2 linked regions of the Homo sapiens genome follow. Each later gene encodes a partner of the first gene's protein in a complex. Each region holds a gene or a part of one and is shown in the gene's direction. Other genes may lie near its edges.

Region 1 (7,549 bases):
TGAGGTGATTTTTTTTTTTTTTTTGAGATAAGGTCTTACTCTGTCACCTAAACTGGAGTGCAGTGGCATGATCACAGCTCACTGCAGCCTCGATCTCCCAGGCTCAAGCCATCCACCTGCCTCAGCCTCCCAAGTAGCTGAGATCAGAAGCATGCACCACCACACCTGGCTATTTTTTTTATTTTTTTGTAGAGACAAGGTCTTACTGTGTTGCCCAGGCTGATCTCAAACTCCTGAGCTCAAGCAATCCTCCTGCCTCAGCTTCTCAAAGTTCTGGGATTACAGGCATGAGCCATGGCACCTGACCAAGGTGAGTGTATTTAACCTCATTTTCAGGCAAGGAAACAAAAGACAGAAAAGTTAAGTAGCTTACTTAAGGTCACAGAGCTAAGTGTGGTGCCAGGATTGAAAACCTAGTTCTTTATTGCTTTAGCACAAGCTATTTCCACTATACTCTGTCATGTTCAGAGAATGTTGATGTCCATCAGTGGATTCTAAATTTTGAAGGATGGAGATACTGCCTTATTCTGTACATCTGCTTTAGCACCCAAGCTCTTGCTTGGTGAAAAATTAATAGTAAACATTCATCTTTTGAGCATCTTCAAATATCCCCTTTAGAATGACATTCAATTATTAGGTCAGTAACCCCAAGAGAAAACGGTTGTTTGAGTGTATATACTGTATTACAAAATAAGGGGTGAATTCAAAGGAAAACATAAGATGCAATTCGTGCCTCCAAGGAGGTTGTAGGGAAGAGGGGTTATGAATGTATGTAAATAGAAGTTGGTGTGCGTGTGTGTTTATAAACAGAATTGTCAGACCAAACATTATTTTGGAAGCAGTAAAAGTAAACTAGAATCTGGCCTAGTCATGTCCCAGGACACCTCTTTCAAGTCCTGAAACATCTTTGTAAGACTGTAATGTGTGTTTACATCCTAGGTAATCACTGTGGCCCACTGTTGAAGAGCTGTGGCTGTTCTTACCCTTCTAGCTTAGATAAACTTATAAGCACAACCAGACTACATATATGAAGCTGAAGAGACCTTGTCTTTTTTTAACGAGCTTTTCTTCCCGATAGGAGTGACTATTTCTTTTCTTCTTCCACATTTTCAGGTTTTAGTGTACTTGTGATTGCTACCCACTTATCACTATTAAAGTCTACTCAGGAGAGAATCTGAGAAACACTCTCAAATTAAGTTGAACATGATGGATAAGTAAAGTATTGTGAAAGTTCACTCTCATGATTTCTAATGGTGAAACCTGGCAGGGTGACTAATCTTTGACGAGAAGGTTATCACTTATAATCTTTCATATATTGAGATCATTTGTAAGAAGCACCCAGCACATTGCTGAACACAAAGTAGGTATTAAATAAATGTTGGCTTCCTTTTCTCCTACTCATCCTCGCTCTTCTTTTTAATATACCTTTAAAATGATGCCACAGAAATGGCCACCCAATCTTCTATATTTAAGGTCAGTTCTTGCATTAGGAAATTCTATAGGGGAAGTATGTGAAGTATGTGTAGTCAGTCATTAAATGCTTGGGCTCTGGCCACAGATTGTTTAGGTTTAAATCCCAGTTTCCTCTTTTATTATTAATTGTGCAACTTGCTTGGGAAAACATGAAACTTGTTTTTCCTCAGGTTCATTATCTGTAATATATAGTGAATGAAGAAGTTTCCTGTCCCATGAAGGTGTTGTAAAGATTAAAAAAGGCAAATTAGGCTGTGTATTTGTCATAATAATTGGCATATATGGTAAGTGACCAACAACCATAAGGTATTATAAAATTGTTATAAAATGATATGAGCTATCATTGAGCAGCATGAAAGAAGAGCTTCACTGTTTCACCTACTATCACCCTGGCCCATTAATCTCTTTCCTGTTCCTGACATTTCAGAGATACGTTTAGGATTTCAATCATGACCTTAAGCCACATTTGAACAATTTTCTGGTGGATAAGTCCTCATTCCCACATTATGTATGTACCTAGATGCAAATCCTGAATATCATGTCGCAATTAGTGCATCTGGACATGCTTGCTAACTGTGTTAAAGCTCTGAATAATGGTAAAGTTTTATTTCTACCAAAACAAATTTGGGCTGTAATGTTTTATGATAAAAATCTGTGGTCTTCCTATGTACATGTGTGTGTACATGCTTAAAATGCAATGTTATAGTTAAATGTAATTCATTAAAAGTATGTAACTCCAGTGGCTACTTAGTTTGGCTACTTGGTTTGTAGATTTCTGCTTTCCTGTTTCATTGTTAAACAGGTCTAGAAGTTATTATTTCATGAAACTAATGTGAGGAAAAAGACTATGTTGATATATAAGTGACATTATATAAATACATGAGGGATGATTTGATTAGAAGCAGTATTACACAGTGATAGGAGTAATGGTTTAGAACTAGACTCAGGTTTGAATCTTAGCTCTATCATTATAGGCATTTACTTAACTTTTCTTGTTTGCTTAACTGAAAACTGAAGATAATAACACCTATTTACATGGTTGTTATAAGGGTTATATGAATAATGTCTGGCAAATAGTAAGAACTCAAGTAACTGTTTCACTCTTTCCAGAAGGAGATTGGCTGAAAAATATTTGGAGTCTCCTCCAGCCATATTCCTTGGTCAGCTTCTATGATCCTCTTTGGAGCTTAATTCTTAATCCCTTTATTTTCACTTGCTTGTTGATAACAAAGAAGAACTAATTATTAATTTATTTCAAAATGCATGTATTATATTTGATGGGCCACACTAACAGTTATAAACCAAACAACAGATTGGGAATGGGGAAGTGGATGTGGTGAGTTCAATCACATGTCTGGGAAAAGTCAATAGTGAAGACAGAGTCTCACAATTTTTTGTCATAATGGAGAGATGAAAACACAGGTAGAGGATTTCAAACAACAGAGTGGATGGTGAGTTAAAAATGCTGAAATTCTTTCCTGGTGTCTAACTTAATGCAATGTGGTTTATCTCTTTGCTCTTTTCTCTACTATTCAAATTTAGGATAATAAAGATTAAATGTTTCTAAATCTTACTTTACAATATCAAGAAAAAAAGGTATGCTTTTGCCCACGGAAGGGCAAAGCAGAGCTATGAAAACCTGCTGAACACATTCTTTATTTTCAACACAGGTTCTTGTCTTTCCATCATGAAATGCACATTTTATTTGTACTGTATTTGGGTGACCACAAGTCAACAACAAGATAATTCACAAGACCCTTGCCTTAGATGTGTCGGCAATAAAGTAATCAGGCCAAAATTTTTACTTTCCTTTGAATTTTTCAATTCAAACACAATGTATGCTTGCTTTTACACAGTAGGGTTCAGGGATTAGAGGGTTGGCTCTTTAAAAACCGTCAGAGACACAGGCAATCCTACACAAAATTCTCAGAAGGAAGGCGCCTACGCCTGGGAATGCCCAGATGCCCCTCAGAGAGTTGAAGATGGCGTTTCTCTGAGTCAGGTCAAAGTTAACACATTACCTTCGCTTCAAAGACTGCTTGGCTTCCTTTCGGTGGATTAGTCAAGATGTTTTGCTGACTGAGACTAGGAAATCTATAGGAGGGCGGGTTAGTTTACATTGTTCCTTGTCATTATCGCTAAAACACTCCAAAGCCTTCCTTAAAAATGCGCACTGGGCTAAAAAGGATAGACAAGGAACACATCCTGGGCCGGTAATTACGCAAAGCATTATCTCCTCTTACCTCCTTGCAGATTTTTTTTTCTCTTTCAGTACGTGTCCTAAGATTTCTGTGCCACCCTTGGAGTTCACTCACCTAAACCTGAAACTAATAAAGCTTGGTTCTTTTCTCCGACACGCAAAGGAAGCGCTAAGGTAAATGCATCAGACCCACACTGCCGCGGAACTTTTCGGCTCTCTAAGGCTGTATTTTGATATACGAAAGGCACATTTTCCTTCCCTTTTCAAAATGCACCTTGCAAACGTAACAGGAACCCGACTAGGATCATCGGGAAAAGGAGGAGGAGGAGGAAGGCAGGCTCCGGGGAAGCTGGTGGCAGCGGGTCCTGGGTCTGGCGGACCCTGACGCGAAGGAGGGTCTAGGAAGCTCTCCGGGGAGCCGGTTCTCCCGCCGGTGGCTTCTTCTGTCCTCCAGCGTTGCCAACTGGACCTAAAGAGAGGCCGCGACTGTCGCCCACCTGCGGGATGGGCCTGGTGCTGGGCGGTAAGGACACGGACCTGGAAGGAGCGCGCGCGAGGGAGGGAGGCTGGGAGTCAGAATCGGGAAAGGGAGGTGCGGGGCGGCGAGGGAGCGAAGGAGGAGAGGAGGAAGGAGCGGGAGGGGTGCTGGCGGGGGTGCGTAGTGGGTGGAGAAAGCCGCTAGAGCAAATTTGGGGCCGGACCAGGCAGCACTCGGCTTTTAACCTGGGCAGTGAAGGCGGGGGAAAGAGCAAAAGGAAGGGGTGGTGTGCGGAGTAGGGGTGGGTGGGGGGAATTGGAAGCAAATGACATCACAGCAGGTCAGAGAAAAAGGGTTGAGCGGCAGGCACCCAGAGTAGTAGGTCTTTGGCATTAGGAGCTTGAGCCCAGACGGCCCTAGCAGGGACCCCAGCGCCCGAGAGACCATGCAGAGGTCGCCTCTGGAAAAGGCCAGCGTTGTCTCCAAACTTTTTTTCAGGTGAGAAGGTGGCCAACCGAGCTTCGGAAAGACACGTGCCCACGAAAGAGGAGGGCGTGTGTATGGGTTGGGTTTGGGGTAAAGGAATAAGCAGTTTTTAAAAAGATGCGCTATCATTCATTGTTTTGAAAGAAAATGTGGGTATTGTAGAATAAAACAGAAAGCATTAAGAAGAGATGGAAGAATGAACTGAAGCTGATTGAATAGAGAGCCACATCTACTTGCAACTGAAAAGTTAGAATCTCAAGACTCAAGTACGCTACTATGCACTTGTTTTATTTCATTTTTCTAAGAAACTAAAAATACTTGTTAATAAGTACCTAAGTATGGTTTATTGGTTTTCCCCCTTCATGCCTTGGACACTTGATTGTCTTCTTGGCACATACAGGTGCCATGCCTGCATATAGTAAGTGCTCAGAAAACATTTCTTGACTGAATTCAGCCAACAAAAATTTTGGGGTAGGTAGAAAATATATGCTTAAAGTATTTATTGTTATGAGACTGGATATATCTAGTATTTGTCACAGGTAAATGATTCTTCAAAAATTGAAAGCAAATTTGTTGAAATATTTATTTTGAAAAAAGTTACTTCACAAGCTATAAATTTTAAAAGCCATAGGAATAGATACCGAAGTTATATCCAACTGACATTTAATAAATTGTATTCATAGCCTAATGTGATGAGCCACAGAAGCTTGCAAACTTTAATGAGATTTTTTAAAATAGCATCTAAGTTCGGAATCTTAGGCAAAGTGTTGTTAGATGTAGCACTTCATATTTGAAGTGTTCTTTGGATATTGCATCTACTTTGTTCCTGTTATTATACTGGTGTGAATGAATGAATAGGTACTGCTCTCTCTTGGGACATTACTTGACACATAATTACCCAATGAATAAGCATACTGAGGTATCAAAAAAGTCAAATATGTTATAAATAGCTCATATATGTGTGTAGGGGGGAAGGAATTTAGCTTTCACATCTCTCTTATGTTTAGTTCTCTGCATGTGCAGTTAATCCTGGAACTCCGGTGCTAAGGAGAGACTGTTGGCCCTTGAAGGAGAGCTCCTCCCTGTGGATGAGAGAGAAGGACTTTACTCTTTGGAATTATCTTTTTGTGTTGATGTTATCCACCTTTTGTTACTCCACCTATAAAATCGGCTTATCTATTGATCTGTTTTCCTAGTCCTTATAAAGTCAAAATGTTAATTGGCATAAATTATAGACTTTTTTTAGCAGAGAACTTTGAGGAACCTAAATGCCAACCAGTCTAAAAATGCAGTTTTCAGAAGAATGAATATTTCATGGATAGTTCTAAATACTAATGAACTTTAAAATAGCTTACTATTGATCTGTCAAAGTGGGTTTTTATATAATTTTCTTTTTACAAATCACCTGACACATTTAATATAGGTTAAAAAATGCTATCAGGCTGGTTTGCAAAGAAAATGTATTACAAAGGCTGCTAAGTGTGTTAAGAGCATACTCATTTCTGTTCTCCAAAATATTTCATAAGGTGCTTTAAGAATAGGTATGTTTTTAAAAGTTAAGTTCCTACTATTTATAGGAACTGACAATCACCTAAAATACCAATGATTACAAACTTCCTTCTGGCCTTCTGGACTGCAATTCTAAAAGTGTAAAAAACATATTTTCTGCATTAAGTTAGGCAGTATTGCTTAGTTTTCAAAGTGGTAGGCTTTGGAGTCAGATTATTTTGATTCAGATCCTACATCTACTGTTTAGTAGCTCTGTTGCCTGAGGCAGGTCCCTTAACATCTCTGTGTGTGACTTGACCTTTAAAATTTGGAGACTGTCATAGGGGTTAATCCCTTGAGAAAATGAATGTGAAAAGTTAGCCTAATGTTAACTGCTATTATTATGGATTACCATATTTTCACATTCATCACAGTACATGCACCTTGTTAATATAAGATGCTCAATTCATCTTTGAGTATAATTTTGTGACTCTCAATCTGGATATGCAATGAGTGGGCCTGTATGAGAATTTAATTTATGAAAAATTGTGTTTCACATGGCCTTACCAGATATACAGGAAACACGTCACATGTTTCTATTGTATGTTGTTAAATGCCTTAGAATTTAACTTTCTGAATAGGATCCCTTCAGTTTGAGAGTCATAAAAGAGTAAAATTATTATGGTATGAGTTATAGATTGTATTGAATATCTCTTTATATGTCTAGGTTTTGTCATTGGAAAACCAAAAAGTTTGGAAAAAAAATCTAAGTTATTTCTTACTTTCTTAATTTTGTGTGGATTTCACATCAAGTATAAAATTTGAAGAACATCTGAACTATCATAATCCATATATATATATAAAATAAACATAATCTAAGAGAGAATTTCACCATGAAAAATTCAGGTAGTTCATGACTATCAGAGCAAACAAGTACATTAAATTGAAACTTTTATGAAAATAACATTTATGAAATAGGAAGCTATTTTTAAACTAGAAGTGATATATTAGCATATAATTTATAATTCATATACAAGTGGGATTGATTTATAAATGGTCACCAACAGAGATTGTGCTATTTAATTTGGGAAAATTTTTTAAATTTACATTTTCTCACAACTTTTAAGGTAGTTATTCAGTTTGTTCCTCTCTGTCTCTTCTCTCATGCCCTGAATTTTTCATATTTCGTTTAGTTGTAAGAGTGTATATCAAACCGTGTGTCACATGACATAACTTGAATTTTCGTCGTGATATCTGTGCTATGTCTAGGTCTATACTGAGGAACTGTGGGAACCCCACAGAATCCAAGTATACAGTGCCACTGATTTCTTACAAGGGATGTGGGGTCTCCTGTAAACTCTGCAGTTAGTCTCAAGTAAGACCAAAGAGTAAAATATTGTTAGGATCTAAGGTGGAAATTCAGC
Region 2 (7,030 bases), on another chromosome or scaffold:
AGCATATACCCATTCTGGCCTGTAGGGATGATAATTGCTAGCATGCATCAGGAAGCAAGCTTGTGAACAATCCAGTTTTTCTAGTACTTGCTTCATACTAGGGAGAAAGTCATCAGTTACTTTGGCATAGAATTTTAGGTTCTTCATCTAATAGAATTTGATTGTGACCATTAATTTTTGTTTATCTTACGACTTCATCAGTAGATGTTCAGATTTTTCTCATTTTGTTGGCAGGGAGGAAATGAGGAAATATATCTACGTAAATAGAGAGAAACTTCTAAATTAAAACATCCTGTTGTGCTACCTGCTCTTTCGGTGTCAACAAACTGAGTTTTCCTTTAAATGCTGGTACCTTAGAGAATGAACTAAAATTTCCTTGTAGAGATACTTTTAAGTTCCTTGTTTCTACATTTTTCTAGGGAAAGATGACAATTCACTAGTTAAGGGGCAAGAAATTATGGTTACATAATAGCAACCTTTAAGCTTTAGAATCCTTTTGATCTCTATGTGAATATGATCTTAGCAGTCATCTGTATTGCATGATGGAGAAACTAACGGTTGGAGCTGGATTCTGAGGGAATTTTTCTAAGGGGAATACTTGAGGAAACAGACTAAAAGTGCTTTCTGTCTCATGATATGTGTGCTGAAGGCCAATCATCTTACTGCTTTCTCAACTAAAAGATTTTCTAATAGAGGTGTGGTTATATGTATCTGATACTTGTAATGAGATGTAAATGATCAGTGGCCTCAAGTCATTCCTAGCAGATTGTAGGTTAGTTAACTTTTTTTTTTTTTTTAAATTCTGGCCAGTTCTTTATTATGTAAGTTTTTCCCGTACTGGTTAGTTTATTTTATTGTTTTCCCTAAAAGAACCAACAGGAGGTTATTTCTGAATGGCCTTGACCAGGACAAGAAGATTGAAGGCTACAATAAAGTAGATATGAGTCCTGTCTATTATTATTATTTGCCCTCAGCTAAGAGCTTTCCTTTAAAATTTGTTTGACATTTTGGTAAGTCTTTGGCATGTTTTTATGCTGTTTTTAACTCCTTGATTTTGTTTTTATTTTTAAAGCTAGATAACATTAGCTTAATAGGCCAGTTTTAAAATTTCACTGTAACAACCTTGTATAGTTCTTTTAAAAGTTGACAATTCTCTCTTTTCCTTAAGTGAGCATTGGAGTTCATAATTGATCTTTAGGAGATAGGGTTACATAAAGGAAAGAGCATTAATTTTAAAATTAATGTTGGTTTAGATCCCAGATCTGCCATATATAGCTGTGTGACCCTGAATGAGTTAACTCTTTGCATTTATAAAACGGGACAATGTCACCTGCCTCATAGGATACTTAGGATCAAATGCGTTTCTAGGAATCCCTGAGTGCTTTGCAGGCCATAAATGATGGATGGATATTTTTGTTATTTACTAAACGAGTTAGCTGGTTTGGGTTTCTGTATAGTGAACTTTTTGTATAGCGAACTGATTGGACTTCTGAATGGAGGAGATGGACAGAAAGTAATCCAAAGGCTTGTTGAAAGTCAGTTTGAATCTATAAATACAATGATTGGTAGCTGAAAAATATTAGTCAAAATGTATAGTGTTGCTCCTGATGAGAGCTGGCTGGCTTTTTTCAAAAAGTAGTCTAAGACAATAAAAACAGTCTGTATTTTATAGGTCAGATGTGTGCTACCTTCCTCTGTCCACGTAGGAAATAATTGCTTTTTCACTTTTTAAGAATGCATCAGTTGATCAAGCAGTCACTCAGTGTGCTAGGCCTTGTACTCCACATTGGGTGTCCAAAGATACAAGTCTGGATTCCTACTTTTTTTTTTTTTTTTTTTTTTTTTTGTGAGATGGAGTCTCACTCTGTCACCCAGGCTGGAGTGCAGTGGCACGATCTTGGCTCACTGCAACCTCTGAAGCCCGGGTTCAAGCAATTCTCCTGCCTCAGCCTCCTGAGTAGCTGGGATTACAGGCGCCTGCCACTGCGCCCAGCTAATTTTTGTATTTTTAGTAGAGACAGGGTTTCGCCATCTTGGCCAGGCTGGTCTTGAACTCCTGACCTTGCGATCCACCTGCCTCGGCCTCCCAAAGTGCTGGGATTACAGGCGTGAGCCACCACGCCTGGCTGGATTCCTACTTTAAGCTCACAATCCGGTGTGGGAGCCAGCAGAGACACTTGCATTGCAGTAAACTGTGATAAGGGCCATTTTAGAAATAAGCATAGGGAAATTGTTATGTGCCTTTCTTTTAAAAGTCTTTAAAGAAAGCAGAGTACGTGTAAAATAAATGAGGTACATAGTAAGTTTCCCTTCACTGGCTGACCATTGGTTTTTTAAGTTTTGTGTGGAATGTACTGTGGTTGCCATTTATTTGAGTGCTTACTGTTTTATATCATAAACAGGTTTACTCCTTACAGGAACCCTAGTAAGTAGATTTGCCTATGTTTTTTTTTTTCTTCACAGAGTCTTGCTCTGTCGCCTAGGCTGGAGTGCAGTGGCGTGATCTCAGCTCACTGCAGCCTCTGCCTTCAGGCTGCCTCAGCCTCCCAATTAGCTGGGATTACAGGCGCCTGCCACTATACCCGGCTAATTTTTTTATATATTTAGTAGAGACGGGGTTTCACCATGTTGGCCAGGCTGGTCTTGAACTCCTGACCTCAAGTGATCACCCTCCTCGGCCTCCCAGAGTGCTGGGATTACAGGCGTGAGCCACCACGCCCAGCCCAGATTTGCCTGTATTATGGATGAGAAAACAAATTCACAGAGGTCACATAGCCTGTGGACTTGGTGTGCGGTACTGGTAAATCAGACTGATAGGCTTCATTATGTCAGTGGGCCCCAAACTGTAGAAATTATTCATAAGGTCAACCAATTGGGCTGTCTTTATGGATCAGAATTAACATAGTGTCTTTTGGATTGATTACTTAAGCCAAGAAGTCAATTTATTGTCATATCTACCATTAAGTCACATGTGTAACCTTGCGCCTGTCACTTAACACCCTCAGTAAGTTTAATCATGGCTAATTGGACATAATTAGCAATGATATGCAACAGCTGATGTGAAAGAGGGAAGGGATTTTGAAATAATAGAAATGCAGTTTCTCTCCAAATTCAGTGTTCACTGGACTTAGTGCTAATGACTTTGTATTACAGATATGCTGTGTTTTGTTTCCTAACAAAGAACCTGCAAATGTTTGAATGGAATTAAATTTATTACAGGACTCTAAATTTTATATGTAGAATGGCACACAGACAGTTTTATAGTGGGTGTTTTTTAGTGAGTAGTTTTCTCTGAGAGCCAGGAGTGTTTAACTTTTTCTGGGTAACACCCACTAACCACCTGGTCCCACTGACTTTCTCAGTCCCTTCTGCAGTAGCTTGGCATCTGATTTTTCTTCAGCAGAGAGACTCCAGAACTAAAACTTCTGCTGTACAGTGCTGTGGATGCTCTATCTGGAATGGTACATCTGTGAATGCTGTTCAGAATATGTGATCAGTTCCTTACCCCATTGAAACATTCGAGCCTAGATTTTTCAGATTTTCTTGTCAGTTTTCTTCCTTATTCTCATTTCTTTATCTGCTTTGGCCTTTGATTTTTATCTCATCTAGAAAAACATACATGCACTTTATTAATAACATCTCTTTTTAAGTCACGACCTAGCTACCTTTAAACCTATTTCCTCTAGTTCTGTCTGGTTGGCTTTCTAAGGAGAGGCATTGTAACCCTTAAACGTGTGCTGTTTTTTTTTTTAATTGATGTGTAATAGATATACATGTGCTCTTTTCTTGTGTTTCTACCACTAGAGTTTAAGCTCTCTGAGGGGAGGACTACACTGCTTTCTTTTAAATTCCTCTCAATGAATAATCCAAAGAGTTCTTAGAAATTTGGTAGTTTTTCATTTTGTTAGTTATTTCAACACACATTGGATTATATGTGTTACATTTTTGTGAGGTAGCTTAAGAATAAAAAATAAGAATGGCTTATGAGCCTTTACTCTAACCAGCACTATATGGGCATTTTATGTTCATTATCTTATTTGATAGCTATTAATGTCTCTTTTTAACACTGAGAAAACAGATTCAGGTAAGTTATAATGTGGAAATGTAGAAAAATCACCTACTTTCTCTTTAGAAGCTCAGATGTGTATGTAAGGCTTGCTAAAAGCAGACCCCACCGTATATTTTATATGTATAGAGCTTGGGTAATTCCTGACATATAATAATGGAGTCTTCATCTGAAATTTCTAACAAATTATTAAATTCAAAGCTTATTATTTTCGAATCGAGCATGTTCTTTGCCTTGAAAACAAAACATAGCTGAAAGCCAGTGCTTCTAAAGGCCACAGCTGTCATTTTCAACCCTTTCTGTCTTTGCACTGCCTTTATTTAAAAAAAAATGGATTAGCAGTAGGTAGTCTTCTTTTTCTTTTCTTTCTTTCTTTTTTGATTCTTCTCCTAGGATATCTGCTCTAGCCACTGGGAAATAACTTCTCAGTATTTTGACCCTGACTAGAAAGATGTCCCTTGGGGAAGGAATTGGGATAGAGGGGCTAGGCTGTTTCCTAGATCCTCTATTTTCAGCATTTATTATCTGATTTAGGATTTTGTTTCTTTGAAGAAAATCCTATTTTGTGAGTACCTTTAGAATTATTTTTCATAGCTGTTTATCTGCACTAGTGGTTTCTCTTTAAACAGAAAAACACTTTTTTTCTTAAAAAAAGAAATAGTACCCAATTTTTAAAAAAGTAATACATACTTGAAGAAAATTTAAAAAGATAGGAAAATGAGGATATAATAATGTTATTACCCAGAGACAGAACCAGTGTTAACCATTTGGTGTAACCTTTCTGTTCGGGTTTGTTTGTTCTTTAGGGGATATTTTACAGAAATAAAATATTGTGCAGCCTCGTCCCTCCAGCCCCCATTGCTCTTAAATAAATCTTTTCATGACATTAAATCTCTTCTTTTGATGGCCACGTAATCTTGTACCATCTATCTCCTTCCCTCCCCTGCCTTTTTTTTTTTTTTTTTTTTTGAGACGGAGTTTCGCTCTTGTCGCCCAGGCTGGAGTGTAGTGGCGCAGTTTCGGCTCACTGCAACCTCCACCTCCTGGGTTCAAGTGATTATCCTGCCTCAGCCTCCCGAGTAGCTGGGATTACAGTCATACACCACCCCGGCTAATTTTTTTGTATTTTTAGTAGAAACGGGGTTTCACCACATTGGCCACGCTGGTCTCGAACTCCTGACTTCAGGTGATCTGCCTGCCTTGGCCTCCCAAAGTGCTGGGATTACACACGTAAGCCAGTGCACCTGGCCAGTCTCCTTATTTTTTAAACCATTCCCATATTGTTGGATATTTAGATTTGCTTCCATTTTTTCACTAAGCAATCTCTGCGTTTATCAACAAATGCTTCCCAGTCCTGACTTGCTGCATCCAGTGGCTTAGAACAGATTGACAGCCATCATCATCATATAGGTGTGCTGGAGAGCTCCTGTTCTCAAGCACGTCAGTCTCTTCCTGAAATATGCCCAGCACAAGGAAAATCTCTTGGCTTACTGCAGGGTTGGGCCTTTTGTGGCCTCTAATGAGTTTGCCTGCGCCAGTATCTTGATGCTTCTGCAGTGGTGCCAGGCCTGACGATGAGACTATAGTCTTTCAAAAACTTTTTAGGAGACAAATAAAGAGTATCTTGCTGACTTTTTTTTTAGTGGGAACCTCATTCAAAGTCTTGGAACAACAGTAGGTCTTGATTAAAAACCATCATGGCATATCACTAGAAAATTCAATTAGAAACTAATGGATAAACTTCAGTTACATTTAACATATATGTCCATTTTAACATAACATACTAACTATCTGTACAAGATTAATCTAGACTTTTGCTTTTCCTTCTCACAAAATTGTATATTTAAAAAGAAAATTCAAGCTTATGGTTTTATGGGCTGCTACAGTGTAATAGTCGTGGAGAAGAATAATAGTACTTCAGTTTGATTTTGCACTATGCATTTTTCAAGGAAGATTTCCACATTTAGTATTCTTTAATTCCCTGCGCCTCATCTTCACAGCAACTCTACTGAGGTAGATGCCATCTTCATTTTATGGATTGGAAGGCTGAGATTTAACATGCTCACATGGCTGTATAGTGGCACATTGCGCTGTGACACACAGTCCTGCTGCCTTCCGACTATACTACATATAGGTACTCTGTGTTCCTTGTGCTCTCCCAATAATGATTTGTAGAAAAACTTGATATTCATTTGCATATGAGTTTTGTGCTTAGCACAGTTATAAGCATTAAATGTGAAACAAACATGAAGCTTTCCTTTGAGGGCACACACGTGAAGCTGTAAGTGGTACAGTACTCATCTGTATCACAGAATGGCATAAAGAAGTCCTAGACCATGTAATAGGCTATAAGTATATTCAGAGTCATAGGCAAGGTAAATCAGTGAGGGCTAGGGCAGTCAGGGAAGGGTTTGTAGCCCTAGAAGAATGGGTGGAGTTCAGATAGGCAGGCAGTAAATAGGAGAGCACTCTAGATGAAGGGAACTACAAAAGCAGTTTCAGACACGTTTGAGCATTGTGTTTATAGGGCATGTGGTGCTGGCCAGCCTGAGAGAAAGGTACATGTTGGAGAACAGTGGATGAGAAAGCCAAACAAGTAAAGAGGAGACAATTTATCAGGAATTTGAAAGCCAGGTAGAGCTTAAATTTGATGGAGTAGCCAAAAGGGAGTCATTGGAAGTTACTGAGTAAGGACAAAGGCAAGACTAGAGGTAATTTAGGAAGAGTAATTTTTTGTTTGTTTTGAGACAGGGTGTCTGTCACCCAGGCTGGAGTGCAGTGATGCAGTCATGGCTCAGTGCATCCCTGGCCTCCTAGCCTCAAGCGATTCTCCCATCTCAGCCTCCCAAGTAGCTGGGACCACAGGCATGAGCCACCACACCTGGCTAATATTTTATTTTTTGTAGAGACAAGGTCTTACTATGTTGCCCAGGCTGGTCTTGAACTCCTGGTCTCAAGCGATGC

The links. Proteins that work in one complex are often made in the same cells at the same time.
Region 2: the proteins of CFTR (region 1) and YWHAB are in contact, whole or in part, in a crystal structure (PDB 6HEP), measured with the Homo sapiens proteins. Residues at the interface, in NP_000483.3 of Homo sapiens: Arg764, Arg765, Arg766, Gln767, Ser768, Val769, Leu770, Asn771, Leu772, Met773; in NP_003395.1 of Homo sapiens: Arg43, Asn44, Ser47, Val48, Lys51, Arg58, Arg62, Phe119, Lys122, Arg129, Tyr130, Glu133, His166, Pro167, Ile168, Gly171, Leu174, Asn175, Val178, Glu182, Ile219, Leu222, Asp225, Asn226, Leu229, Trp230.

Annotation. Positions count from the first base shown.
Region 1 is NC_000007.14:117,475,499-117,483,047, forward strand, and holds the start of CFTR (cystic fibrosis transmembrane conductance regulator), read left to right. Parts: upstream 1-4,526; 5' UTR 4,527-4,596; coding exon 4,597-4,649; intron 4,650-7,549. UniProt on the Homo sapiens protein: Epithelial ion channel that plays an important role in the regulation of epithelial ion and water transport and fluid homeostasis. Mediates the transport of chloride ions across the cell membrane.
Region 2 is NC_000020.11:44,888,681-44,895,710, forward strand, and holds part of YWHAB (14-3-3 protein beta/alpha), read left to right. Parts: intron 1-7,030. UniProt on the Homo sapiens protein: Adapter protein implicated in the regulation of a large spectrum of both general and specialized signaling pathways. Binds to a large number of partners, usually by recognition of a phosphoserine or phosphothreonine motif.